Linked DNA regions of Homo sapiens: regions 1, 2 and 3 are each reported to be linked to region 4. Evidence: microRNA targets listed by miRTarBase, many of them from high-throughput screens and not tested one by one. Region 4 holds a microRNA gene; each other region holds the end of a gene's coding sequence.
The links. The annotated mature microRNA hsa-miR-146a-5p reads UGAGAACUGAAUUCCAUGGGUU and lies in region 4 at 4,797-4,818, opposite strand. An mRNA with a match to its seed (bases 2 to 7 or 8) in the 3' UTR can be bound and repressed. Matches are read on the target gene's strand: a 7mer-m8 pairs with bases 2 to 8, a 7mer-A1 pairs with bases 2 to 7 and ends in A, and an 8mer does both.

Region 1 (7,107 bases), not on the chromosome of region 4:
TCTGCCCCACATTTTTTTGGTGGAGCCTCAGAGGCCACCGCTCTTTTCTCTTTCTGGTTGCTGATCTATGCTCTTTCAATGTGACTAGAAGAGCAGATTCAGCTACATAGGTCTTTGGGACTTACGTGTTTGCATCTTTGGGGGAATGTTATCAGAAATTTGGATCTAATATGCAATATCCATCTACACTCTGGATTAAAATAATCACATTGGATTAGTCAAACACGAGTCACTGTGGTATTTAGAATAAAATAGATAAGTCAAAGAGTCTGCATTGAAATAACGTTGAAGTTCAACTTGCAATGTTTTAGAGAATGCATGCTTTCTGGATGTTTTGAGCGGAGAATATAATTATGCTTCAGTAAGTGAGCTACTAAATTGAAGAAGTATAAAAAACTACCTTATGAAATTGTGAAGTAGAAAACAATCTTTTCTTTAATGTCTACAAATAGGTTTTTAAGGTCCTTTTTGCATGCTCAGTACAGGTCAATATCAGAATTGCTCATTATAGTTCTTTGCCTCTGCCTTGCTCCACTGACAAAGCTGAATCCCATGGAAACTTGGCCATTATGCTATAATTGCAATCAAACAGGATTTGGAGCAATTGTTACTAGAAACTTGAAAAACTGGGGGTGGCAGAGGAGAAAAGGCTATGCCAGGAACCAGGACAAATACTTTGATTCACAGTTAGGCCATATCATTGCCATGGGCAAGGGATGAAAAGATTGTTTGACTAAAGAAGACCTGCATCAAAGGGAGTATCTACAGGGTTATTGAAAAACGCATAGGTGATGGGAAATTGGTCTTGACACTTTTTTTATTTATAAAAATTTATGAATGCCTTTTTTATGATCTTGTGAGGTGAATAATGAGGGAATTGTTCTGAGACTTTTATACCTATGTCTGAGACACTATCTGATGGACATTATTCATTGTACATTTTTCTGTTCTCCCTGCTCTATCCTCCTACTTCCAATTTTTGGAACATTTTTAAACCTTGAGAAAAGTTAAAAGAATAATATGCTTTTCCCCATAGTTTCTTCTCTTTCTGTATACCTTTTTTCTGACTTCTTACTAATTTTTTTCCCCTGATGACAGCCTACCGTTGAATTTTTTTTTAACACTGTAGAAACAGCCTTTATTGGTTGCAACATGGATTGGAAGAGGAGGGTGTATGATAGCTCCCACTCCTGGGGCAGCACCCACAGACTCAGTCGCCACTTTCCAAAAAGCTAAAAAGAAATCTTATTGTGTATATTTAAGGTATACAACATAATGTTATGGGATACATATAGACAGAAAAATGGCTTCTGTAGTGAAGCAAATTAACATACCCATCATCTCCTATAGATAGCCTTTTTTATGTGTGTGGCAAGAGCAGCTAAAATCTACTCATTTAGCAGAAATCCCAAATACTGTACAATTTTATTAATAGTAGTCCTCATGTTGTACACTGGATCTCTAGACTTGCTTATTCCCCATGTCTGCTACTTTGTAACCTCTAACCTACATCTTCACATTTCCTCTCCCAGTCATTATTTTCTGAACCGCTGGAAAGTAAATTACAAAAACCATGGCACTTCATCCCTAAATATTTCATTATACTTCTCTCAAGAGTAAGAACATTCACTTTCATGTACAATGCAATGATCACATCTAAGAAAATTATCAGTAATTTCACAATATCATTTAATATACTGTGTATATTCAGATTGCCACAATTGTCCCCAAAAGGTTTTTTATGGCTGTGTGTCTTTTTCAATCCAGGAGCCAATCAAGGTTCATGTTTTACCTTTTTTTTTTGAGACGGAGTTTCACTCTTGTTGCCCAGGCTGGAGTGCAATGGTGCAATCTCGGCTCACCGCAACCTCCACCTCCTGGGTTCAAGCGATTCTCCTGCCTCAACCTCCCGAGTAGCTGGGATTACAGGCATGTGCCACCACACCTGGCTAATTCTGTATTTTTAGTAGAGAAGGGGTTTCTCCATGTTGGTCAGGCTGGTCGGGTACTCCCAACCTCAGGTGATCTGTCCTTCTCAGCCTCCCAAAGTGCTGGGATTACAGGCATGAGCCACCACGCCCGGCCCATGTTTTACTTTTTATACCTGGTATATTTTTTAATCTATTTTATACCTGGTATATTTTTAATCTAGAATACTATCTCCTCTCTTGCCCTTTTTCTCTCATCAAATTGTCTGTTTTGTAGGATTGGCAGATTTAGAAAATTTAGAAAAGGATGCTCAGTTAACCTGAATGTCAAATAAACAATGAATCATCTTTTAGCATAAAATGTCCCGTGCTCATACTAAAAGCTAATTTGTTATTTATCTGAAAATCAAATTTAACTCAGTATCCTGTATTTTATCTAACAACTCTGCTTTTTAAAAAGTTCAGACTGCCGGGTGCGGTGGCTCATGCCTGTAATCTCAGCTACTGGGGAGGCTGAGGCAGGAGAATCACTTGAACCCGGGGCCGGGGGGAGGTTGCAGTGAGCCGAGATCTCGCCACTTCATGCCAGCCTGGGTGAAAGAGCGAAAATCCGTCTCAAAAGATAAAAAAAAAAAAAAGCTCAGACCAGTTCTATTATAGAGTAGCTCAAATTCTGGATTTGCTTGTTTTCTAGTCATTTGATTTTGTAAACATTTTTTACAAAAATTTCTAGATGATGTTGCATATTTCTTATTGCCTCACACTGGGTGGTACGTATCTACAAGTCTCATTAATTACTGGCTAAAGACGGTGACTGCAAATCTCTCTGGTTGAAAGCACTTTCTTTCTTTTGGAATTATTAAATAATTGTGGAGTAATATTCTGAGAACAGGTGAATACTCTGAGACCAGGTGAGATGTTCTCAATCATCTTCTGCACAATAATTTTAACATTCATTAGTGATCACTTCCTCAATTATTTCCTTGTGGGTTATGAAATAATTTTTTAATGTTAGCATTCCTTCTAGTTTTATTACTAGCTGGCATTCATCTGTAAAGAAGAATTTTCCTTCTTTAATGCTCTTTTGTAGTATCACTATATACTAGTGGAATTTTAAAAATTCAATTTGTTATAATTCGTTACTGTCGTTATTCTGTTATTGCTCAAATTACGCCAGTTTTGGCCAATGGAAGCCCCTTGCAAGTCTGCTCTTTGGTCCCTTGGATATAACCCCATTTTGTCCTTTCGTGCTTGCTTTCATCCTATCATGAAAAAATGTCCCAGGCTCATTTTTGTGCTCTTGTTGTCTAGGAGGAATCAGCCTTTTCCCCTGTCAGTTTTGTGCCTCCCTGCTCCAAATCCATTGTCTCTGCCCTGCTCTGTGATACTGCTGGAGATGGACCCTGTGAACGTGCTTCCTTTGCCAACTGGCACAGTGGCAAGCTTTGTCAGTAGAGGGCACTGGAGGGACACTGCTGTGCACACAGAGCACCTTGTGGCACTCACCCTCCAGCTAGCCTCCTGCTCAGCTGGCCTGCCCCATGGTTTTCCTTCTTTGCTGGCCTCAGTCTGCTGGAACCCCTGTGGGAAGTCTCTTGTTTTCCAACTTGAGCCCACCAGTTGGACCACTGTGGACCAGCTCTGACTCAGGATAACACAGCAGACTTCTCTGCCATCCCTTGGGCTGTGACTGTACCCTTTCCAGTGAAGTCTGAATCTCAGGAGAGGGCCTCTCCTTTTGCAAGTTGTTCCTTATATGGGCACTTTCAGCCCCATGGTATTGTTAATGTTCTCTTATTTCTCTTATTCTCTCTGGTTATTCTCCTCTTTCTAGTTAATAATTCTTTAAATTAAATTTTCCCTGTTCAAATGACTGGTCTCTTTTCTGTCTTCTGAATGAACCCTGACTAATAGAGAAGTGATGCAGGGAATAGTTGTTAAATAGTACCACTATTCAAATAAGTGATTCCAGGAGTAACTTGGTCATGCCCTTGGATTTGAGCACAGTGCCAAGCCCCTTGCCAAGCATGTGGGAACAACACCATCAATCCAGCCATCACCTGCAGGTGAGTGTGAGGAAGTGCCCACTGCAGCAAGTATGCTGGGAGCCTAAGGGGCTGCTGCACCTGACTAATGATATCTACAAGGACTATGGCATGGCATTGTCTTCTCATCATTAGAAGAGGTTTCTCCACACCCAGACTGTGAAGTTACTCACTCATGTATTTATCTAATATCTTTATAGTTTCCTTTTAAATTTATTGATTATTTAAAAAATTGATATGCAATAGTTGTCTGTATTTTGGGGGCACATATGATGTTTTTGTGTGTGCATATAGTGTGTAATGATCCAATGAGCATAACTGAGATATCCATTTCCTCAAACATTTATCTTTGCTTTATGTTGGGAACACTTGAATTCTTGTCTTTTAGGGTTTTTAACAAATGTATATACAGTAAATTATTGATAGTTACCCTACTGTACTGTCAAATGCTAGATCCTATTTCTTCTACCTAACTGTATATTTGTACCCATTAATCAACTTTTCTTCATCTGCCCCTTACCCTCACCCTCCCCAGCCTCTTGTAGAACCACCAATTTACAGTCTATCTCTATGTGATCCACTTTTCTAGCTACCACATATGGGTGAGAACATGCGATATTTGTCTTTTTGTGCCTGTCTTATTTCACTTAATATAATGACCTCCAGTTCCATCCATGTTGCTGCAAATGACAGGATTTAATTTCTTTTTATGGTCAAATAGTACTCCATTGTGTGTATATACCACATTTTCTTTATCTATTCATCATGAGGGACATTTACATTTATTGCACATCTTGGCTATTGTGAATAGTGCTGCCATAAACATTGAAGTTCAGATATCTCTTCCACATATTGATTTGCTTTCTTTTGGTTATATGCTCAGCAGTGGGATTGCTAAATAATATGGTAGTTCTATTTTTGTTTTTTTGAGAAGTCTCCATACAGTTTTTCATAGTGGCTGTACTAATTTACAGTTCTCACCAGTGTACGAGTGTCCTTCTTTCCCCGAATCCTGGCCTGTGTCTGTTATTTTTTGTCTCTTTGATAAAAGCCATTTTAGCTTGGGTGGGATGATATCTCATTGTGGTTGTGATTTGCATTTTCCTGGTGATTAGTGATGTTGAGCATTTTTCTGTATACCTGTTGGCCATTTGCATGTCTTCTTTTGAGAAATGTCTATTCAGATTTGTGCCCATTTTAAATTGGATTATTTGAGTTGTCTTTTTTTTTCTTTTTTTTTTGATATTAAGTTGTTTGAGTTCCTTATGTATTCTGGATTTTAATTCCTTCTTAGATGTATAGTTTGTGCATGTTTTCTCTTGGTATTTTTGACAACATAGGCGAACCTAGAGGATGTTAAGTTAAATAAGCCAAGCACAGAAGGAAGAGTACTGCATGATCTCACTCATATGTGGAATCTAGAAAAGTTGACCTCATAGAAGTAGAGAGTAGAATAGTGATTACCAGCGGCTGGGAGAGTGGGAAGGTGGATGAGGGGAGGTTAGTCAATGGGTACAAAGTTACAGTTAGCTAGGAGGAATAAATTCTAGTATTCTATTGCAAAGTAGCTTGGCTATAGTCAATAATAATGTATTGTATACTTCAAAATAGCTAGAAAAGAGGATTGAATGTTCTCAGCACAAATAAATGACAAGTGTTTCAGGTGATGGATATGATAATTACCCTTTGATAATTATACAATGTATATATGTAACAAAACATCACACCGTACCCCATAAATATGTACACTTATTATGTATCAATTGAAACCAAAATAAACCTTTAAAAACATTATATAGGCAGTAAAAAAGGTTATGTTTTATTAATTGCTGGACAACCGTGGGAAAACAAATAAGCAATTGACACCACCAAATTCTTATTACATTCAAGATAAAAGATTTATTCACACCACAAAAAGATAATCACAACAAAATATACACTAACTTAAAAAACAAAAGATTATAGTGACATAAAATGTTATATTCTCTTTTTAAGTGGGTAAAAGTATTTTGTTTGCTTCTACATAAATTTCTATTCATGAGAGAATAACAAATATTAAAATACAGTGATAGTTTGCATTTCTTCTATAGAATGAACATAGACATAACCCTGAAGCTTTTAGTTTACAGGGAGTTTCCATGAAGCCACAAACTAAACTAATTATCAAACACATTAGTTATTTCCAGACTCAAATAGATACACATTCAACCAATAAACTGAGAAAGAAGCATTTCATGTTCTCTTTCATTTTGCTATAAAGCATTTTTTCTTTTGACTAAATGCAAAGTGAGAAATTGTATTTTTTCTCCTTTTAATTGACCTCAGAAGATGCACTATCTAATTCATGAGAAATACGAAATTTCAGGTGTTTATCTTCTTCCTTACTTTTGGGGTCTACAACCAGCATATCTTCATGGCTGTGAAATTCATGGCTGTGGAATTCACGGCTGACTTTGGAAAGTTCCTGACTATCAATCACATCGGAATGCTCATTGCTCTCATCATTGGCTTTCCGCTTATATAATCTGGACTGCTTGTGGCTGTGGGTTTCAGCACTCTGGTCATCCAGCTGACTCGTTTCATAACTGTCCTTCCCACGGCTGTCCCAATCAGAAGGCGCGTTCAGGTCCTGGGCAACGGGGATGGCCTTGTATGCACCATTCAACTCCTCGCTTTCCATGTGTGAGGTGATGTCCTCGTCTGTAGCATCAGGGTACTGAATCACGGCACAAATGAAGAATAATTATATGAACGGCTAGGGATGGGAATATGGTAATCCTTTTCCACTCTCTAGCTTTTAGGTCATCTTATACTAAAAATTGTCTAAATCTGGCTGAAATAATACTAGCATGTTACTTTGTATAGTACTTTACCAAGGCCTTTCACATATGTCATCTCATTTAGTTTAATAACTACATCACTTACATATGTAATGAAACCTATGAGGTAGGTTTCATTATATTGAAACCTACATAAAGAGGAAGTGAATTGTTAGTTAAAAAGTAAAGAGAATAGTAAACGGCAAGGCTATGTCAAATCCAGATTCTGTGACTAAGGATTCAGTGTAATTTGCAACTACAATTCCTCTTAGGTATTTAACTTCAAAACATGACCATTATTTTTTTTAAATAATT
Region 2 (7,127 bases), not on the chromosome of region 4:
CTGACCTCATGATCTACCTGCCTTCCCCTCCCAAAGTGCTGGGATTACAGGCGTAAGCCACTGCGCCTGGCCCACAGTCAAATATTTCTTCATGAAAGATATCCAAAGGAATAACAGGGACATACAGAATTTTCCTATATTTAATTCATAGAAAAATAACTGTTCACTACCAAGTATGCGCCAAAACTCTACCAGGTTTGGCATTCTTACAGTAACAGCATGAGCAAAGAAAGAAAAACAACAACAACAACAACAAATTATGATAGGGAAATTTCTGAAGAGACTTCCTAGAGGGCTGTCAGGAATAACTGACATGAATCTAGCATCAGGACTATCATGGTAGACTTTAATTCCTGAGCACTATCAGACAAAGAAATTCCTACACCTCAGCTACATCAGTCACACTTACCTATAAATGACAGGTCTGCTTCCTTGAGCAGAGAAGAGGGTGAAGAATGAAAAAAATGAATCTAGATAGGCAAATATAAAATTACAGGCACAATGCCTATCTCATACCACAAACAAAATTCATTCCAAGTTTATTATCAACATAAATGTGAAACATATGTAAACAACACAGGAGAATAACTTCAATACCTCATGCATGAAAATACTTCTTCACATCCAATTATGAAGAAACAAATTGAAAAATTGGGCTCCATTAAAATTAAGAATTTCTGTTCAGAAAATGACTACAAACTTTAAAAAAAAACTATTAAGAGAGTGAAAAGTCAAATTTCAGAGTGGGAGAAGATATTTGCAACACATATACTTGACAAAGGCACATATCCAAAATATATTAAGATTACTCCTAGAAACCAACATTTAAAAATATAACCCAATAGAAAAATGTATAAGAAAGTTGAGGCCGGGCGCGGTGGCTCACGCCTGTAATCCCAGCACTTTGGGAGGCCGAGGCGGGCGGATCACGAGGTCAGGAGATCGAGACCATCCCGGCTAAAACGGTGAAACCCCGTCTCTACTAAAAATACAAAAAAATTAGCCGGGCGTAGTGGCGGGCGCCTGTCGTCCCAGCTACTTGGGAGGCTGAGGCAGGAGAATGGCGTGAACCCGGGAGGCGGAGCTTGCAGTGAGCCGAGATCCCGCCACTGCACTCCAGCCTGGGCGACAGAGCGAGACTCCGTCTCAAAAAAAAAAAAAAAAAAAAAAAAAAAAAAAGAAAGTTGAACAAATATTTCACTAGAGGATACCCAAATGATGTCCAATAACATATGCAAATTAATCAACTTTATTAGTAATCAGGAGAAATGCAAATGGCCAGATGCAGTGGCTCATGCCTGTAATCCCAGCATTTTGAGAGGCTGAGGCAGGAGGATCACTTGAGCCCAGGAGTTTGAGACCAGCCTGGCAACATGGCGAAAGGCTGTCTCTACAAAAAGTTAGCTAGGCATGGTAGCATGCACCTGTAGTCCCAGCTACTAGGGAGGCTCAGGTGGGAGAATCACCCAAGCCCAGGAAGTCAAAGCTGTAGTGAATGGAGATCGTGTCACTGCACTCCAGCCTAAGCAACAGGAGTGAGACCCTCTCTCAAAAAAAAAAAAAAAAAAAAAAAGCAAATTAAAACAAATGAGATGCCACCACACACTCACAGAATGACTCAAAGTAAAGAGAATTTCAATGCTCACTACTGGTGAGGATGCAGCACAGTGTAAGTTCCCAAACAGCTTGGTGGGATGTTAAATTGTGAATAGTCTTGGAAGCCATTTGACAGTATCTACTAAATTTGAACACAAGCATACCCTAAAACCCAGCAATTTCACTTCTAGGTATTACCAATCTAACAGAGAAAGGTGTATATATTTTCGCCAAAAGAATAGAAGGTTCACGGCAGCTTTATGTTTGGCATAGCCTCAAACTAGAAACAATCCAAATGTCCACTAAGAGCAGAGCTAACAAATAAATGGTGGTATATTCATATATACCTTATATTCTATGGAATATAACAATGAGAATGCATAAGCAATTATTACACAGAAAGAAAGCCAAAAAACAGAAGAATACATATTGTGTGATTCTATTTATATAAATCTCAAAACAGCTTAACGATGGGGTTAGAAGTCAAGACAGTGGTTAGTTGTGAGAAGGAGGAAAGGAATCGCGATGGTGGGCAGAAGGGAGGCTTCTGGGTTCCTGGTAATGTTCTGTTTCTTGACCTGGAGAATGGTTACCTGAGTGCATTTGTATTGTAATAATTCATGATTTGTGCATTTTTAGAAGTCATACTTCAACTAACAAGCTAAAAAAATTGATGGGCTTTCTCCTCTTCTAGGCTTTTGTAATGTCTAACTGTTACCTCCTAAAAACCCTGTTATTGGCTCTTGATTTGAGTTATGATCCCAAGAAATATCTAACTGGGTGAGAGACATGAGCTTGACTTACTGTGTGACCTAGGGCAAGTCACATAACTTTCTAGGTCTGCAGTTTCCTCAACTGTAAAATAAAAACATTGAGAATTTGCATTTTCTAAGGCTTTTCTAGCTCTAAAATTCTATTATTCAAAGTCATTAAATTCTTATTGTTTTAGTTTCCACAAGAACAATAAGGAAACAATGGCTGTCACTCTATACCTGAAACATTTCCTGGAGGTGGTTTCACATGTTAATGGTAAGATGAGTGATATTGTTACCAATAATCTTTAATTTACTGAGTATTAACTCTTCCACTAGTACAATAGAAGCAGGACTCTTACAGAAGGTATTGAGTGACAAAGTAATAATTCTTAAGGTGAACATTGATGTGGTTACAGCCCACATGTGGTCTGTCATAGAATACAGTGATTACCCATAAACAATGTTTGTTTCTCTTTCAGACTCAGGAAAAAATATCTGTTAGTCAATATCTCCATGATCTCTCTTCTCTGATCCTCTCTGCCATGCTGCAAGCTTTGCTTTCTCATCAACCATTTGTAATAACACATAATAATGATGTAATAGATGACTAAGAAACTATTAAAAGAACTATTTTTGTCTTTAACAGAGGAAAAAATTGCATACAAACTCATACAAACCAAAAATTTTACAATACCCCATTAAGATACCAACAGGTAAAAAAGACAAACAGGAAATTCAAAAGTGTAGAAAAGTATTCAATCTCACTAATAATAAAATAAGTTTTTAACGGTACTATCATTCGTTACGTGTAAAATTGGTGAATAGTTTTAATTGTTGGCAGCTATTTGTTGAAACGGGCAGTGTCACACATTACTCAGGGGGGTTTAAACTCACACAAATCTTTGGAATAACAATTGGATATGTATATCAAAAAAACTTTAAAAGCTTCATAACTTTGATTAATAATACCACTTCTAGAAATGAGGAAAAAATTCCAAATTCTAAAAATGTGTTATACATAAAAACGTTCATAGTTTTATTTATAATACTGAAAAATAAAAGTAACCTGTGATCTCACTTATGTATGGCATCAAATAAAGTTGAACTCATGGAAGTAGAAAGTAGAATGATGATTGGCCGGGCACGGTGGCTCACGCCTGTAATCCCAGCACTTTGGGAGGCCTAGGCAGGCGGATCACCTGAGGTCAGGAGTTCGAGACCAGCCTGGCTAACATGGTGAAACCTTGTTTCTACTAAAACTACGAAAAATTAGCCGGGCATGGTGACGTGCACCTATAATCCCAGCTACTCAGGAGGCTGAGGCAGGAGAATCGCTTGAACCCGGGAGGTGGAGGCTGCGGTGAGCCAAGATCATGCCACTGCACTCCAGTTTGGGCAACAAGAGTGAGACACCATATCAAAAAAAAAAAAAAAAGAAAAGAAAAGAAAGTAGACCGATGGTTTACTAGAGGTTGAGGGAGTGGGAAGAAGGGGGTTTCTGATCAAAGCATACAAAATTTCAGATAGAAAGAACAGGTTTTAAGATCTACTGCAGGGTGACTATAGTCAATAATAATGTACTGTATATTTAAAAATAACTAATAAAAGTAAATTTCAAATGTCTCTCCATAAAGGCCAATAGGTAAGAGAGGTGATAGATATGTTAATTAGCTTGATTTAATCATTCCACATTGTATACACATATCAAAACATCACACTGTACCCCTTAAATGTACAGGGCACCCCATAAATGAATTCAATTATGATTTGCCAATCAAAAGTAATATTAATAATAATTTTAAAATGCATTGGCAAGGGAGGCATTAGCATTCTTGAAAAACATTAAAAAACAAAAAATTTTCAACAGCCAGGCTCAGTGGCTCATGCCTGTAACCCCAGCACTTTGGGAGGCCAACGCAGGAGGATCACTTGAGATCTGAAGTTCAAGACCAGACTGATAAAGATAGCAAGACATTGTCTCTATAAAAATTTAAAAAGATAAAAACAATAAATATAAATAACCCTATTCCCAATAAATTAAATAATGATACATCAAAACAATAGAACACTAAAAATAATATTTATCTAAAAAAGGACCTGATTTATCATGTAATCTGAATTTTTTTTTTAAAAAAGGTTGAGACAACACTGGAAAAAAATAATATTTATTAAGTTATATAAATGTAAACATTTAGTATAAATTTAACCAGAAAGAGAAATATGGCTATACTGGTGGAATCAGTGGAGGGAAAGAGTGTGTCTTTGTGTGTTTGGTGAGAGGTGGGTGGGAAGGTGGGTTTGGAAATGGAGTGAGTGATAAACCATCATTATTGGTGTGTGAACACAATATCAACACAATAGTGTGATAGTGAATAAGTCTCACGAGATCTGATGGTTTTATAAATGGGAGTTCCCCTGCACAAGCTCTCTTGGGTGCCACCACGTAAGACATGACTTTGCTCCTCACTCACCTTCTGCCATGATTGTGAGGCCTCCCTAGCCATGCTGAACTATGAGTCAATGAAACCTCTTTCTTTTATAAATTACCCAGTTTGGGTTATGTCTTTATTAGCAGCATGAGAACAGACTAATACACAGGATTAGTACTAAAGGTAAAATGGAGACTAGGTACCTGTCTGCGTTTTATTTTGAGAGTATTGTATTGCAAGCATGTGGAGAAAAAGTGCAACAGCCTAAAAAAAAGCCCAGTGAAAGTCAGTATAATTGGAAATGTTGGGCCACTTATTCCAAACCTATAACATCCCCTATATATACACAATTAAATGTAATAAATGTAATTTATGTACACAATTAACTGTCAATGTTAATTGGGGTTTCCATGGGCTTGTGGCAGATTTATTCAGATGAGGTAAGATGGAAGCTGGTTTCCTCTTGTGTCAACTTGGGCAATGGGGATAGTCAGTCTAGTGAACATGTTGTAACTGACTCCTGGGAAAGCAAAATGGACATTTTAAAAATATAGGCTCAAAAGTATAGCTCTGTAGACTTGAGACTTTGGATTCATTATTATTTGATTTTCAGGATGACAAATTAGTCAAACCAAAGATGAAATTTAATCAAATGATATACAAAAATATTTTATAGGCTTTCTTTACCTCTTTTACCCAGAGAAATCTATTCTTCTTTTACAGCTGGGATGGCATGCTATCTCTTAGGCATCACATTCTCCAAACTCTGGAGACAGAATGAATTACTTCCTCCTCTACACTTAAATACTGCTGGAATAATACTTATCACAATGTATCATAAATAATTATTTATAAGTTTGACTATCTTGCTAGATAATGAATTTAAAAAGGGCAACGGCTATAGCTTATTCAGTACTAAATAAAATGCCTGGCTACAAATAGGTCCTAGTAAAAATTAAAGGTTTGAGTTAATACTGAGTTACCCAAAGAAGATAATTCACAAGTCCAGTGAAAAGAAAGTATACTGGAAAGGCAAAGTCTATTATATTTAGTGTGTATCCTCTAATTTCTTTCTTTTAGGCCCTATTAATATAGGTATAGTATATTATGTAACTCAAATGCTACCGCCACCATTGAGTTTCTCCTGATTTTCCAAGTCACAAAGATCTGTTCTCTCTGCACTTCTAAGTACTTTTTACCTCTATCAATAGGTAAAGAGGAGCCTTTACCTACTCTCCCCATGCCTCCTTTTTTTTTTTTTAATGTTTTGAAGGACTATATTTCATTTTATTTATCTTTGAATATACAATGGCTATCACTGGCCTGGCACATAATACATATTCAATGAATGTTTGTTAATTAAGAATTTATTAGACTTGAAATAGTCAAAAGATGAGAGATAATTTGTTTCATTTCTATTCCCTTTTCTGTAACCAAGATGAAGGCCAAAGTGGTCTTAGGAACCTTTTGTCTTCCTGATGAGTTCTTCTATGGTGTCCCACTGCTCCTTGGTGACCTAACACAAAAAAGATGTCAATTTAATGTCCTTTTTACATGTTTTTAAAGCTTAGTATCCTAGCTGCTGATATTACATTATACACACAAAAGCATTACCTTTCTCAGGTCGTTGAATTCCCCTGAAATAAGTACTTCCTCTCCACCGTCAAATTTAATGACCTGGAAAAAACAAATTTTTAAACTCTGAAACTAACTCCTTTTAAAAAGTTTCTGAACCACTAGCCATTTTCCCATACTAATTGGATGGAATATCTCTTTGGCACTTTAAATCAAGCCCAAATTTTAAAGATAAAACTCATGATTAAACCTAAATTGATTTACTCAGTTTATAATTCTATTTCTAACATCTCCACAATTTCAAATATCTACCCAATATTGAAGATCATCTTAAAGGTATATCTACCAAGGTAACCTGCATCTATTAATTTATCACTTGATATGGTTTGGCTGTGTCCCCAAAAAAATCTTATCTTGAATTGTAATCCTCAATCTCTCTCTCTCTCGTCTCCCTTTTTTCTCTCTCTCCCTCTCTTTATCTCTATTGCCTGCCACCATGTTAAGTTATGACTCTTCCCCTTCAGCCATAATTGTAAGTTTCCTGAGCCCTCCTCAGACATGCAGAAGAGTGAATCAATTAAACCTCTTTTCTTTTTTTTTTTTTAATTATACTTGAAGTTCTAGGGTGAATGTGCACAATGTGCAGGTTTGTTACATATGTATACATGTGCCATGTTGGTGTGCTGCACGCATTAACTCGTCATTTACATTAGGTATATCTGCTAATACTATCCCTCCCCGCTCCTCCCACCCCACGACGGGCCCCCATGTG
Region 3 (7,127 bases), not on the chromosome of region 4:
CCTTTGAGTTACAAAGAGTGAGAAGACATGATCCCAGTCAAGTGAGATAGTGGGGGAAGAGTAATATAATAAAGAATTATAATGGAGCACAGTTGTTATCCCTGTTTGAGAAATAAATGGCCGTTAAATGCATGTTGTGCTGAAAATAGCATGTTCTATGAAAGATCTTTACAATGACTTCTGTAAATTGAGCTGTACATTTTTTTTTTGAATTTAGTTGCAGGGGCCCTGGATGTTTCCTTTAACAAGTTTATTCCCTTATCAGGTATGTATTTTCATATGCACATTTTTTAATGTCTCATTGTTCCTAATTTCTTTTTTGTAGTATATATGTATATGTGTGTGTGAGTGTGTGTATCTATTTCTTACCTTGTAAACAGAGGTTAAATTTCATAAATGCGTAGTAATACATCTGGTTACAAGAGTGAAACTGGGCTCCCCCAGAGCTTGCCTTGAGGCGGTGCCCTCCTCTGGGCCAGCTGCAGAGCCTTCTTATTCTCATGTCAGGGAGGCCTGCCAGAGCTGTTCACCAGTACTGTTATTCAGAAGGCGTCCCCAGGCTGACGTGTAGTAATTTAAATGTTGGAATGTAAATTCCTTGAGGTTCTTTGTGGGTTTTCTTTTTTTTTTTTTTTTTTTTGGTTTGTTGACAATTTAATATTCTTCAGTGATGTCTGGGGCATGGGAAGCACTCTATTTCTTGAATTTAATGTTGCATGGGTAAGGATGTTTTCAAGAAGAGCTGTGATCTTTTAAAAGACATGTTGCATGATAAAAGTGTCTTTAACCTTTACATAGAATACTTCAGTAACAACAACATGAGACATGCCTTTACTAGCAGTTAGGTAAAACCATACTCATAAAAGTTGCAACTTCTTGGCTTGCTTTTCAAAAATGTCCAAGCCTCTATGATGTAAGATTTTGTCTAAAACCAGGACAAATCTAAGAAAGTTAACTTACTGTTAAAAATTGAAGGCATTAGGGGAGGTAGGTGTTGGGGCCAAAGCTTTGTTACTGTGGTATGTAACATGAAGTGTGTTTGTTTCTTTAACATACAGAGCCTGCTCCAGTTCCCCCAATACCCAATGAACAGCAGTTAGCCAGACTGACGGATTATGTGGCTTTCCTTGAAAACTGATTTATCACTCTGAGTTCAAGATTCATCTTCAGAATCCTGTATACTGACAAACGTAGAAATGTAAAGTTTGTATTTTCAATTTATTGGATGGCTTAAGCACCTCAGCATTCCTTACTATGTGATAAAATACATATAGAATATAAGATATACTATATACATTTTGTCCATAAACGTTATGCTGAATAGTTGTTGAAACAGTTCTCATTTTGTAGTATTTAATAATCTGGATGGAGCCTGTCAGTATTACAGTTAGTTTTCTAGTGACTCATAAAATAAGATTTCCTGTTTCATGTAGAATAGTGTTTGTCAACTGTCTTTTCTCTGTCCCAGCACATGCCGTACTCTTATATGTACCATTGGTTGATAATTATAATGATTCATTTGGACTTGAAGAAAGATTGTCCCCAGGCACAGTATCTGAATCACTGGGGATTATGATTCACCCTCTTTGGAGAACATGCTCTCTTTTCACCCCCCACCTCCTGAGAGCCACTAATGTAAGATACAGAAACATAGCTGAGGAACAAATAGACCATTTCCATACTAAACCAGTTTGTTAACTTTAGATTTTTTCCAATAGTGTGAGTATATCCATTGCTGGCAGTGGAGGGCTTGCCATGAAAATGCAACTTATTTAAGACATTTATGAGACATATTAACTTGTGCTGTCGCCTTTTAGAAGGAGAAACTTAAGTGTGGAATGCATTATATGGGCAAAGAAGCTATGAAGATACATGATACACTTTGTACAACTATCCTGCAGCCCATTGGTTGCTTATATTTATCGCTTGGCTCAAGTTCTGCCCTTTGGAGAAATACTGAGCAAGTCTTTCATTCTCTGTGTGACAGCCCTCTGAATATTTGAAGTTGTTTGTTGTAACTTAAGGTTATAACAGCCCTTAGTTCATTTACTCTGCATTTGTTCAATAAATATTTAACTGAATTCTTCAATTATTTCATCTAAGATAGTTTCTGGAAATTTCACTCTCGATCTTTCTGTGGACACAATCTATTTTGTCATTGTGTCTATATGAATCTCTTAAGTAGAAATGAGTTGTATGGTGAATCTGTGTAGTGATAATTATATAATTTATTTATTTTGAATGCATTTTAGTGGCTATTTCAGTTTTTCTTAACATATATGGGAATACTTTTTGAATTGCAATTTTATTTAACCCGGATAGGTAAGTCATATTAAAATTCCTTGTTTTACAGTTGAGGAAATGGGAATTCAAGAAGTCAGAGGATCAGGAGAGTGATCAAGAGAATGACAGTGCCAGTTTTTTTAACTTCCAGGTATTAAGTACAAATTGTATCCATGGTTATTTTTTAAAAGCAGATTAGAGTCAATCCAAATATTCATTAATAGGGGATTGTTTGAATAAACAGCAGTGTAGACTACGCAGGTGTAAAAGGAGTGAAGATCTCTATACTAAACTGGAATGATCTCCAGAGTGAGAACATAGAAAGCACATGTAGTTTATATGGTTATTTTGAGGGTAACAAAAGGAGAATGATTACAATTATATATATGTACATATTTCCTTATATTTCAAAACTAAGCAATTGGGGGATATATACAAAATGAATATAATAGTTCCCTAAAGAGGAAGGAGAGGACAGTGAACTACTACATAGAGAAAAAATAATCTCAAGTGATCAAACACAATATTTCAATTTTACATTGTCAGTGGGATATACACTAAGGACAGAAAAAAATCTTAGACTAATGAATGTGGTTTTTCATGATTAATTTCACAAAATCTTGATATCTTTTTTATTATTAAAAGTATAGATTAAATTAATAATCATGTAACATTAGACCCCAGTAATCTTAAATTTGACATGGAAACCTCATTATATGCTTTATTTTTCTTTGTAAACAGTAAATATTTCCCACTCCTGTCTACATGAAAAGGTCTAGAGTAATTACAGTTCAGTAACAATGAGCACCACTAGTACCCAGATGGTGTTCTTTCATTTTCATTTGCAATTAAAAGGAATCAGAACTTATTTGCAAAACAGCTAATAGTTCCAGGGCAGTAAGTGTACAAGTTCATATCTGGTACAAGATGTCCAGGATTCAAGGAGGCTCTTAAAGACTTGGGATTCTGTCAAAGGGTTATACAAGCCAACTTGAAGGGATTTCTACAGGCCATGTAAAAATGAGACAGTTTGAGCATGAAATATTTGTATATGTGTCTGTTTTTAACTCTTAATAACCTCATCACTGTACAAGAAAGGCAGGGTAAGTGCTTGATTTCACTTCCCTTTATTATCAGTTCTCAGGACAAATTGATATGCTGCCAATCTCTAAAGCAACAAAATCGAACCTGTAGGGTAGTCAAAAAGCTCATGCTGGAAAATTCCACCGAATAAAGATAAAAGTTAGAAAAACGGTACTTGCAGCCCTTAATGAAACAAAGAAGGGATCATGGAAATATATATCAATGCTGTTGAGACCACAGGGTAAGAAATTGAGATTGAGCATGAAATATGTCCAGTACATCCATCAGCCTGTCTTTGTGCTCTGGCTATTTCTGAGCCAGCCATCTGTGTACAAGTGTAGCCTGACAGCACCCTGTTTCAGATCCATTGGATATCTCTAAAATTTGCTCTGGGACTTACCCTGGCACTACTATCAGGATGCCCACACAAACCTGATTGGGCAGCCCATCAGCAGTTGTGAACATGACATGGTGAATAAACACTCTCTTCCTTGTCTCAGGGCAGACTATTTCCAATGTGTTCTATACCTAGATCCTCAAAAAGAACCCCCAAAAAATTGAGCTGTGGTGTCCCATGGTCATAAGCTCTCTAATGCAGCCTTCAATTGTTTTTTCCTCATTCCTTGTTTTACTTTTCCTGGTTCCCTGTCTCTTGTTCCCGGAGATCAATAGAAGTGATCTGTCTACATATCTTTACATACCTATGCTATTCTGCCTTGGGGCGGGGATCGGGGACCTAGTCAAATCAAAGGGAAGTGTGTAACACATGAATCAGACTGAAAGCACCTGAATTTAATTTTATATATATAAGTATATATATATATGTGTATATATATATATATATATATATAATACGTATATGCATATATATAGTATATAAATATATACATATATACATGTACATATATATATATTTAAAGGTTTAGATCTGCTACTTTACATAAAATGTGAGAATTAATGGAACAAGTTAAACATCCCACTAAGAAACAGCCAGTTCCAGAATGTGGGAAATTTAACAGGATTAGTGAGTTTGCTTGAAAAATAAATGACAAAAAGTCAGGGGGTGGTAGTAAGTATGAAAATGTCTGTTCCTGGGTTGAAGTACCTTGAGGCCAACTCAGAATTGTGTCAATAACTAATAGGTGAATACCCACATTTATCCCTTGAGAGGCATCAGCCCCTAAATCAATGAGGAATGTGGAGCTAAGATTTGAGAGTACTGCAATGAGGTCATCTGCAGCAGCTCTTTGCAGGGTCGGTGGCAGGTGTTTGCTGATTCCACAGGGCACAGCAAGATTCAAGCTTTGCCTGGTGAGGGGCCTGCTGCTGAATAACCTAACAACCTGTGGAATTTGGGCACTTTGAAAGGGCTGGGGTGATAACAATGGAGACTTGAGAGGGCTAAACCACACTGTTTACCCTTCAAAACATTTGGTGAACTTTTAAGCTGCCTAGGGTAGGAGACCAAAAAGCAAGTCAAAAACCTTTGAGAAACAGTTCCGTTTTCCTGGAGTTTTGCTATGTCAGCGCTCCATTAAACAAGGTTGTTGGGTGGGGGAAGGTGTTTGCTTATAAATATAAACCAGAAGTAGAATATTAGTAAAACTGCTCCTGGAAGACAGGTCAATATAAAATATTAAGCTGAAGTACAGAAATGAAACAGTGGAACTTAACTGGCAATTGTGTTGGAGACATGTGGTACACAGCATAGCGATCTACCATTTATCTAATTGGAATCCAAGGAAGAGCGAGAATATAGAGTGGAAAAATAGAAGTACCAGCCCAGAATTTTCTGAAAGTGATGAAAGAAATCAATCCACAGATTCAAAAAGCTCAGAAAACCCCCACAGAGGATAAATGCAAAGAAAACCACACCCAGACAACAGTAGTAAAACTACTGAAAACCAGAGACAAAGAGAATATATTAAAAGCACAGAGGGAGGACCCGGGGGGACATTATCTTCAAAGAAGTAGTGGTAAAGCCAGACAGTGAAATGGCATTTTTAACATGTTGAAAGAAAAATAAAATCCTAACTGCTATATACAAAAGATCCTCTTTTAATATTTCTGTGTTCTTACATTTAAAAGTTGGAAAAAGATATACCATTGCAAATACTAACCAAAAGAAAGTTGGTGCACCTTTGATAGTAAGAGTTGGCCCTCCATATCTGTGGGTTCTACATCTGTGATTCAATCAACTGTGGCTCAAAAATATTTGAAATTTTTCTAAAAAAATACAGCATAACAATTATACATTGCATTGTATTAGGTATTAAATCTAAAGTATACGAGAGAATGTGTATAGGTTATTTGCAAATACTATGTTATATAAAGGACTCTGATCTACAGATTTTGTATACTTGGCAGTCTTGAAGCCAAGTATATCCCCTGTGAATATCGAAGGGTGATTGTATTAGGCAAAGTAGACCTCAAGGCAAGAAGCATTATTAGAGATAGAAAGTAATTTTTAATGAAAAAGATTGCATATAGTTTCCTTCTGTAACAAATTACTGCAAACTTAATGGCTTAAAACAACACAGATGTATTATCTTACAGTTCTGCAGTCCACAAATCTGAAATGGGTCTCACTGGGCTTATGTCAATAGGGCTGCATATTTTTCTGTAGGCTCTAGGGGACAAGCTGTTACCTTGCCCTTTCCAGCTTCTAGAGGCCGCCCGCATTTCTTGGCTCATGCCCCTCTTTCTCCACCTTCAAAGCCAGCAACATTGGGTAGAGTTATTTTCACACTGCTCGATCTCTGGTTCTCTCTTCTGCCTCCTTTTTTCCACTTTGAAGGACCCTTGTAATTATATTGGGCCCACCTGGAAACTCAGGATACTCAGTCTATTTTGAGGTGAGCTGATTAGCAATCTAGTTCTGTCTGCTATCTTAATTTCCTTTTCCCATATAACCTGAGATTCTACGGATTCAAATATAGACATTTTTGGATGTCCGTTATTCTACAGAGATCAGTCCAAAAGGCAACAGGAATATGTAGCAATTCTAATTTTATATTCAAAATATAATCAAGTGGAAGTTTACCGAACTAAAAGGAGAAAAGAGTCATCTATAATCATACTGGAAGACATAATACACCTCTCATTAGCTGATGGCATGAACAGACAATATCACAAAGAACATAGCAAAGGTGACAGACTTGATCTAATTGGGATACATAAAACACTAACCAACAATGACAAAATATAATTTCATTTTATGCTGTATAAACCATTTACCAAAATTGAACACATAAAGGACCATAAAGCCCTAATACATTACAAAGAGTAGAAATCAAAATGAGTGCATTCTCTGAAAACAGTGGGATTAAGCTAGAAATCAATAAAGCCATAGAGATTACTAGGAAATCTCTAACTGCTTAGGAATTATGTAGTTGTCTGGGCATAGTGGCTCACACCTGTAATCCCAGCACTTTGTGAGGCTGAGGCAGGAAGATCGCTCGAGCCCAGGAATTCAAGACCATCCTGGGCAACATAGACCCCTGTCTCTACAAAAGTATAATTTTAAAAAGTCAGCTGGGCATGGTGGTGCATGTCTGTGGTCCTTGCTACTTGAGAGGCTGAGGCAGGCGGATCGCTTGAGCTTGGGAGGTCAAAGCTGCAGTGGGCCATGATTATGCCGCTGCACTCCAGCCTGGATAACAGAGTAAGACCATCTCTCAAAGAAAGAAATTATGTAGTATACTTCTCAATGACCTGAGAGACATAAAAGAAAACATAAATTAGAAATATTTAAGGACTTC
Region 4 (7,127 bases):
CCAAAGGCACAGGTGGAGGAATAAGTCAGAGTGGGCCTCAATGCATGCTCTTCTGTTTTCAGTCACACTGCAGAAACAGAGGCAAAAGATTTTTTTTCTTTCCTTCCTTCTAAGTTCATGTATATTTGTATACATTTTTTAAGTAAAAATGATCTTTTTGCTATAGGGATTTTGGTTTTGAGGCTCCACGTCACCAGTTACCAGCTATATGGCACGGGGCACAGATACGTTGCAAAATCTTTTGAAAATTCCACTTTCCTATCTCTAAAATTAGGATTATGAAAAGAGCTATGGCCAGGCACAGTGGCTCACGCCTGTAATCCCAGGACTTTGGGAGGCTAAGGCAGCCAGATCACTTGAGGTCAGGAGTTCGAGACCAGCCTGGCCAACATAGCGAAACCCTGTCTAGTAAAAAATACAAAAATTAGCCAGGCGTGGTGGTGGGCACCTGTAATCTCAGCTACTCGGGAGGCTGAGGCAGGGAGAATTGCTTGAACCCAGGAGGCGGAGGTTGCAGTGAGCTGAGACCACACCACTGCACTGCAGCCTGGGTGACAGAGCAAGACTCTGTCTCAAAGAGAAAAAAAAAAAGAAGAGCTATTTCACGGAAGAATGTGGTGTTCAGCAAATATACTAATGTGTGTTAAAGTGCTTTACAAATTGTAAATCCTAACACAGTACAAACTTTAGTGAAAGGAACATAGGTTCTTACTGTGCAGTCCTGATTAACATCCTAGCTGTGACACTTAACATGTTGTGTGTGAAATTTAAGCAAATTATGTAACCTCCCTGAGCCTCAGTTTTCAGATATAGAAAATAGAGAAATCTTTCATTATTACAAGATACCTTGTGTATCTTGTAAATATCCAATAAAGTTGTAATTATATTTTCTGCACTTTCCCAGGAATAATCAAAATTAACTCTTCTACTTGGAAGGGCTTCCGCAGGAGATAGGAGCAGAACATCCTTAAAAAACTGTTGTGAAATCACCTTAGTGCTAAGAAGAGCAAAGAGGAACTAGACAAGATGGCTTGTACCCTGGTTTCCTGCCCCCAGAGCATTTTTCCAGACTCTCTGACCACCTGGACACCCAAACTGGGAGCTGCCTCTCTGAAATATTATTAGAAAAGAGGGCAAGAGTCTAGATGTGAGAAAATATGAAAAAAAGAAATTTCCATTTTAACTAACAAAGGTTTGACTGCTGGCAGGACTTAGGAAACCACTGTGTCCCTAAATCAGTGAATCCCAGCAACCTAGCACAAGGGAAAGGCAGACTGTGAGGTAGTGTGTCCAACTTTCCACCTCATCCCATTAATGTGAGCTGATAAATCATGACCTTCCTTTGTTATCAGAGGATGGCAAATCAATACTTCCATTATCATTATTATTACTCCCAAGGCACCTCTCTAGCAGCATGTGAGCTATTCTCTCCCAAGCACAGAGCCGAAAGGATGGCTAATCTGCTTCTGAGACCCCATCAATCACAACAGGAAGAGAAAGGATGAATTGGGAAGAAGAAACATAATAGTACGGAGGGGGAAAACAGCATTTGAAAAAGCCTGGAATAGTTGCTCTAAGTGTCGTCCTAGGACCTCCTTGATGACATTCAGTGAGTGATGGTTAAAATGACAGATACTTTGGAAATGCCTAGTCTGTGGGTCAGGGGCATGACCTGCCTTAATTGACAACTTCTTCAAGCGGTTTTATGCACCTAAAGTTTGCACATTAAAAACCTAGAAATCTACTATTCACCGGTGGAAATATCACTTGTAACCATCTTGAAGTTTTGGGGTCCTGCTGTTCATCTCTCAGAAATAAGTTTTGCGGAATACTTGCATGCATACTTGTAGGAGTGGGCCAGCATCTTTCATGTCAATGTCAGCTATATTTCAGTTCCAGGGGAATGCAGATGTCCCTTGATTGACCCTATCAGTACTAAAACTTTAGTGTGCATAAAAGTCAGCCAAAGGGTTGGTAAAACAGAAATTGCTGGGCCCTACCCCTAGAGTTTTCTATTCAGGAGGTCTTGAGTGGGGCCTGAAAATTTACATTTCTAAAAAGTTCACAGGTTGGTTAGCTAATCCAAAAGTCATTCCCAGGCCAAGCGTGGTGGCTCATGCCTGTAATCCCAACACTTTGGGAGGCCAAGGTGGGCGAATCACCTGCAGTCAGGAGTTTAAGACCAGCTTGGCCAACATGGTGAAATCCCGTCTCTACTAAAAATATAAAAATTACCCAGGCATGGTAGCAGGCGCCTGTAATCCCAGCTACTTGGGAGGCTGAGGCAAGAGAATTGCTTGAACCCAGGAGGCGGAGGTTGCAGTGAGCCAAGATCATGCCACTGCACTCCAGCCTGGGTGACAGAGTGACTCAAAAAAAAAAAAAAAAAAGTCACAGGTGATACTGATGCTGCTGCTCCAAGAAACACATTTAAAAACCACTGGCACACATGGATGGATTTTTGGAGAGAGTTCTTTTTTTATTTAGGCAGAAAAGCATGATTAAGGGAGAGGGGAAAAAAATCACTTGCAATCTTAACACCCACTACCCACTGGATATCCATACACTTACACGGATACACACACACTTCTCCTCGTGCAAAAAAAAAAAGAATCACACTACATATTACCCTGTGCCTATCTTCTTCATGGGACAACAAATCAGGGCTCTCTCTCCACTCCTCCATGACCCACCTCTATGGCATACTGTCTAATAAATGCACAGCATGAGTACTGTCTGGACTCATCACAATTGGGTGTTATATTGTCTTCAATAACTTTATTGTTGTAACCAAACATGTTCTGTGTTAAGTCAAACAATAGAGAAAAATACAACCAAAAAGAAAAACACATCTCAAATCCCACCACGTCAGAGATAACCATTGTTAGCAAATTGATGTACATCTTTCAACACACGTATTCCTACATACATTTATTATTTTACATAAACTGAATCATAGACACCAAGTTATTTTGCAACATGCTTTTTCCACTTACATAAACCAAGTTTTGGTAAAGCAAATACAACCTCAAAAATCTTTGAGAAATGTACTATCTAATGGAATCTTAACACAAATTCTCTATGAAATGAAGCATTCTTTTATACAGTGAATTTCTGCCTACTCCTCACAGATACACTAGGTTAATTTTTTAATGTGTGTGTGTATCTGTGAATTCCATATTTCATTTATTAGGTTTGCTTTAGGAAGAGTGCCCCTGAAATAAAAATGAGCCTTTTGTACTAAATCGGAGTTCTGAGCCAAAGTCAGTGTCCACAGCACAGAGGAGCTGAAACCCAGAGCATTTGGAGCTTCTAGTATATATTCTGGATTTTCTCCATCAGTCTAGGACTGAAGACACCGATCTCTGGTGTCGGTTGAGATTTCACCAAGGTTCTGGTTCTGGAATGAGTCACTGGCTAAGGGTCTGATAAGCAAAGGGCGGAAGTGGGCAGAGTGTGAGAAGGGTGGGGGAGGTCCTTGATCTGATCAGTACAACCCAGAGAACACACCCATGTCCCACACGCTTGCGAGGGGGCCTTCATAATAACCAAGCACCCCTTTCCATCTGTAGAACATGGTTACGTGTTTTTCAATTTGCCATCCTGTTGTTAATTTGTCCCCGTTTTCCAGATGAGGCTTGGTGAGATTCACTGAGATCATGCATACAAAGAAAGCCCTGAGCACAGTGCTTGGCACATAGTGGGCACTCAGTAAACCTCGGTGTCACTGAGAAGACAGAATGAGAATGAGCATGCTGTGGAGTCTTTCACCTGCCTCTCCTCTGGGACAGGTTACTCTTTCATTCTGTAGACTGTAATGACATGGAAATTCCAAGATACCAAGAGACAATGATGAATCAAAGATGAGTTCCCAAAAGACAAATCACATCCCTTATTCCCCATCAAATCTAAAGCCTAATAAAGTCCATATAGCACTCATGAGGCCTCTAACCTTCTGCCTAAAAGTGATCATCATCACAGCAAACCTGAGCCTCAGAAAGGACCTAGCTTACTTGGTGACAGAGGAGGGCAACAGAAGGACTTGGCCCATGGCACCCAGCTGACCATGTCAGCAAATAGAGAGGCCTTCAAAGCCTTTGCATTCCTGTTCCCTGGAGAAACTGAGGATTGCAGTAAAGTGTAATTACAACCTCTTTTTGCCTTGTTTGAAATACAAAGGGACAATGTAGCCCTAATATATTTATAGAAGGAAGTAGAGATCAAATAAAGGAAGAGGGGGACCAAAAGAAGGGCATATCCATGTTTCTCATCTTCTTTCACTGCAGATCTTAAAAAGGAACCAGAAGCCTCAGCAGTCCCTGCTAAAGAATCATTGTCACATTCTATTAGTTCCCTCTGATCCCGTGAAGAGGGGGGAAAAATCATTGCATGGCAATGCCATGTGTCTCAAGCTTCATTAAAGTGATTTCTCCCAAGAGTCTCGTATAACAGCATGTAAAGCACTTACAACAGTACCTGAATCATCGTAAGTAATCAATAAATGTAAACGAGTAGCAGCAGCAGCAAGAGAGACTTGCTGAGATCATTCATTTAGCTACTTGGAACCCTGCTTAGCATAGAATTCAAGTCTTTTCACAATCAAATGAGTGTTTCTCACAGGAACTCACACTCCTTATACCTTCAGAGCCTGAGACTCTGCCTTCTGTCTCCAGTCTTCCAAGCTCTTCAGCAGACTGAAAAAGTTCTTCAGGATCTACTCTCTCCAGGTCCTCAAGCCCACGATGACAGAGATATCCCAGCTGAAGAACTGAATTTCAGAGGTCTGACACTGACACAACCCATGGAATTCAGTTCTCAAAGCTGAGGATACACATCGGCTTTTCAGAGATGGTGCAAAGACCCCTCCTTGCAGTCCAGGCCTGTCCCAGCCCTGTAAAATACAAGAGTGAAAAGCCTGGTAAATCCAATGCAGCTGCTTCCTAGTACCAGGTCTAGTCCTGGCACTCATGAGTTATAAACATCTGGAGGAGACCAGGCCAGCAGTCTGGAAGGCTGATGTGGGTGGATCTCTTGAGCCCAGGAGTTCAGGACTAGCCTGGGCAACATGGAGAATTTGTCTCTACTAAAAATAAAAAATGAGCCATGCATGATGGCCTGTGGTGGGAGGATCGCTTGAGCCTGGGAATTGGAGGTTGCAGTGAGCTATGATTGCACCACTGCACTCCAGTCTGGGCCACAGAGAGAGACCCTGTCAAAACAAAAACTAATCTGTAGGGGATGTGTATGGTAGACACACACATCATTAAGCATCATTAAACATGGTAGCTGGCCTTTCCTGCCTCATGACCCTTCCATATGCCATCCCTCTGGCCTGGAAAACTCGTTCCTCTCTTTAACATCAACTTATCCTGATGTTCTTGCTTTCAATGTCACTTCCTCAGAGAGGCCATCTATGGCAGAGATTGCTGATTGTTTGCCCAATATATATTCTCTCCTCCTTCTATACTAATAGAACCCTTAAGTGGTATCTGAACACATGGACATCTGACTTTGTTTCCTCACCTGGTGTGACAAAGTGCTGGATATGAGCAGGAGTGGAGAGTTTTTTACTGTTTCCCTCCCTCTTCTCAGGCTTGGACTGTAGACATGGTAGAGAGCCACTGTGGACCATGCAAATGAGTGCAGCCCCCCAGGGAACAGCAGAGCAGCATGCCAGAAGAGCCCCAAAAGTGTGAGGCTTCCTTATACACCCTAGACTGCTTACACCTGCACTGATAGATCAGCAAGAATGGAACATTTACCTTATTTAAGCCACTGTTACTTGGGGATCTCTGTAAGAGCACTTGAATGTTTACCTACCACTCCCTCACCATCAGCCTCCAGCTAGTCTCTTTCATAATATGGGATTCTTTCCTTCACCGTAATTTGTAATTGTTAGATAATTTTGTATAATTATTTGATTAAAATTATCTCTCCAACAAGACTGTTTTCCATAAGCATAGAGACCATGCTAGTGTTTTTTAAATATGTATATAGGCGAGATGTGGTGACTCACACCTGTAATCTCGGAACTTTGGGAGGCTGAGGCAGGCAGATCACCTGAGGTCAGGAGTTCAAGTTTCACTTGGCTAACATGGTGAAACCCCGTCTCTAACAAAAATACAAAAATTCGCCAGGCATGGTGGCGCACACCTGTAGTCCCAGCTACTTGGGAGGCTGAGGCAGAAGAATCACTTGAACCCAGGAGGCAGAGGTTGCAGTGAGCTAAGATTGCACAACTGCACTCCAGGCTGGGTGACAAAGCGAGACTCTGTCTCTAAAAAATAATAATAAAATAAAATAAGTATATAATAGCCTTATTGAGCTATAGCTATATAGCTCACACACCAGAAAATTTACCTATTTAAAGTAAAAAATGCATTGGTTTTTAGTATTTTGCAGAGTTGTACAACCATCATAATCAATTCCAGAACATTTTCATCATCCCCAAAATAGATCCCATAACCATTAACAGTCAATCTCCATTCCCCTCCCTCACCCCTGGGGAATCACTGATCTACGTTCTGTCTATATATATGCTGGACATCTTATATAAATGAAATCATATAATCAGCGGCCTTTTGTGACTGGCTTCTTTCACTTAGCTTTCAGGATATATCCATGTTTTAATGCGTATCAGTACATCCTTCCTATGGATGAATAATATTCCATCGTTAGGATCTACCACATTTCATTTATCCATTCATCAGCTGATGGGCATTTGGGTTGTTGCTACCTTTTGCCTATTTGATGCTTCTATGAATGAATACCCATGTACAAGTTTTGTATGGACATATGTTTGCATTTCTCATGGATGTGTGAACCCAAAAGTATCTGAGACAGACCTGAATCCATTTAGGAAGTTTATTTTGCCAAGGTTAAGAACATGCCTGTCACACAGCCTCAGAAGGTCCTGACAACATTGTGCCCAAGGTGGTCGGGGCACAGCTTGGTTTTATACATTATAGGGAAACATGAGACATCAATCAGTATATGTAAGATGTACATTGGTTCAGTCTGGAGAGCTGGGACAACTAGAAGCAGGGGTGGGGGCTTCCAGATCATAGGTAGATACAAGACAAACTGTTGCATTTTTTTGTCTCTGGTTAGCCTTTTACTGAATACAC

Region 1: miRTarBase lists SPP1 as a target of hsa-miR-146a-5p. The part of its 3' UTR that is shown has no 7-base or 8-base seed match.
Region 2: the mRNA of DECR1 is a reported target of hsa-miR-146a-5p. Seed matches in the 3' UTR shown: 7mer-A1 at 4,929-4,935.
Region 3: miRTarBase lists COPS8 as a target of hsa-miR-146a-5p. Seed matches in the 3' UTR shown: 8mer at 1,335-1,342 and 8mer at 3,419-3,426.

Annotation. Positions count from the first base shown.
Region 1 is chr4:87,982,074-87,989,180 of GRCh38, reverse strand. SPP1 (secreted phosphoprotein 1) reads right to left here. Exons shown (of 7, transcript NM_001040058.2): 7 at 5,770-6,689. The coding sequence ends at 6,285. Among named protein-coding and RNA genes, the nearest start is that of SPP1, 9.9 kb to the right of the region's middle.
Region 2 is chr8:90,051,007-90,058,133 of GRCh38, reverse strand. DECR1 (2,4-dienoyl-CoA reductase 1) reads right to left here. Exons shown (of 10, transcript NM_001359.2): 9 at 6,395-6,457; 10 at 4,501-6,296. The coding sequence ends at 6,237. Among named protein-coding and RNA genes, the nearest start is that of CALB1, 28 kb to the left of the region's middle.
Region 3 is chr2:237,096,605-237,103,731 of GRCh38, forward strand. It overlaps COPS8 (COP9 signalosome subunit 8), which reads left to right. Exons shown (of 8, transcript NM_006710.5): 7 at 218-265; 8 at 1,059-3,870. The coding sequence ends at 1,138. Among named protein-coding and RNA genes, the nearest start is that of COPS8, 14 kb to the left of the region's middle.
Region 4 is chr5:160,483,063-160,490,189 of GRCh38, reverse strand. It overlaps MIR146A (microRNA 146a), which reads right to left and starts at 4,838; the gene lies at 4,740-4,838. It overlaps MIR3142HG (MIR3142 host gene), which reads right to left. Exons shown (of 2, transcript NR_132748.1): 2 at 2,764-4,891.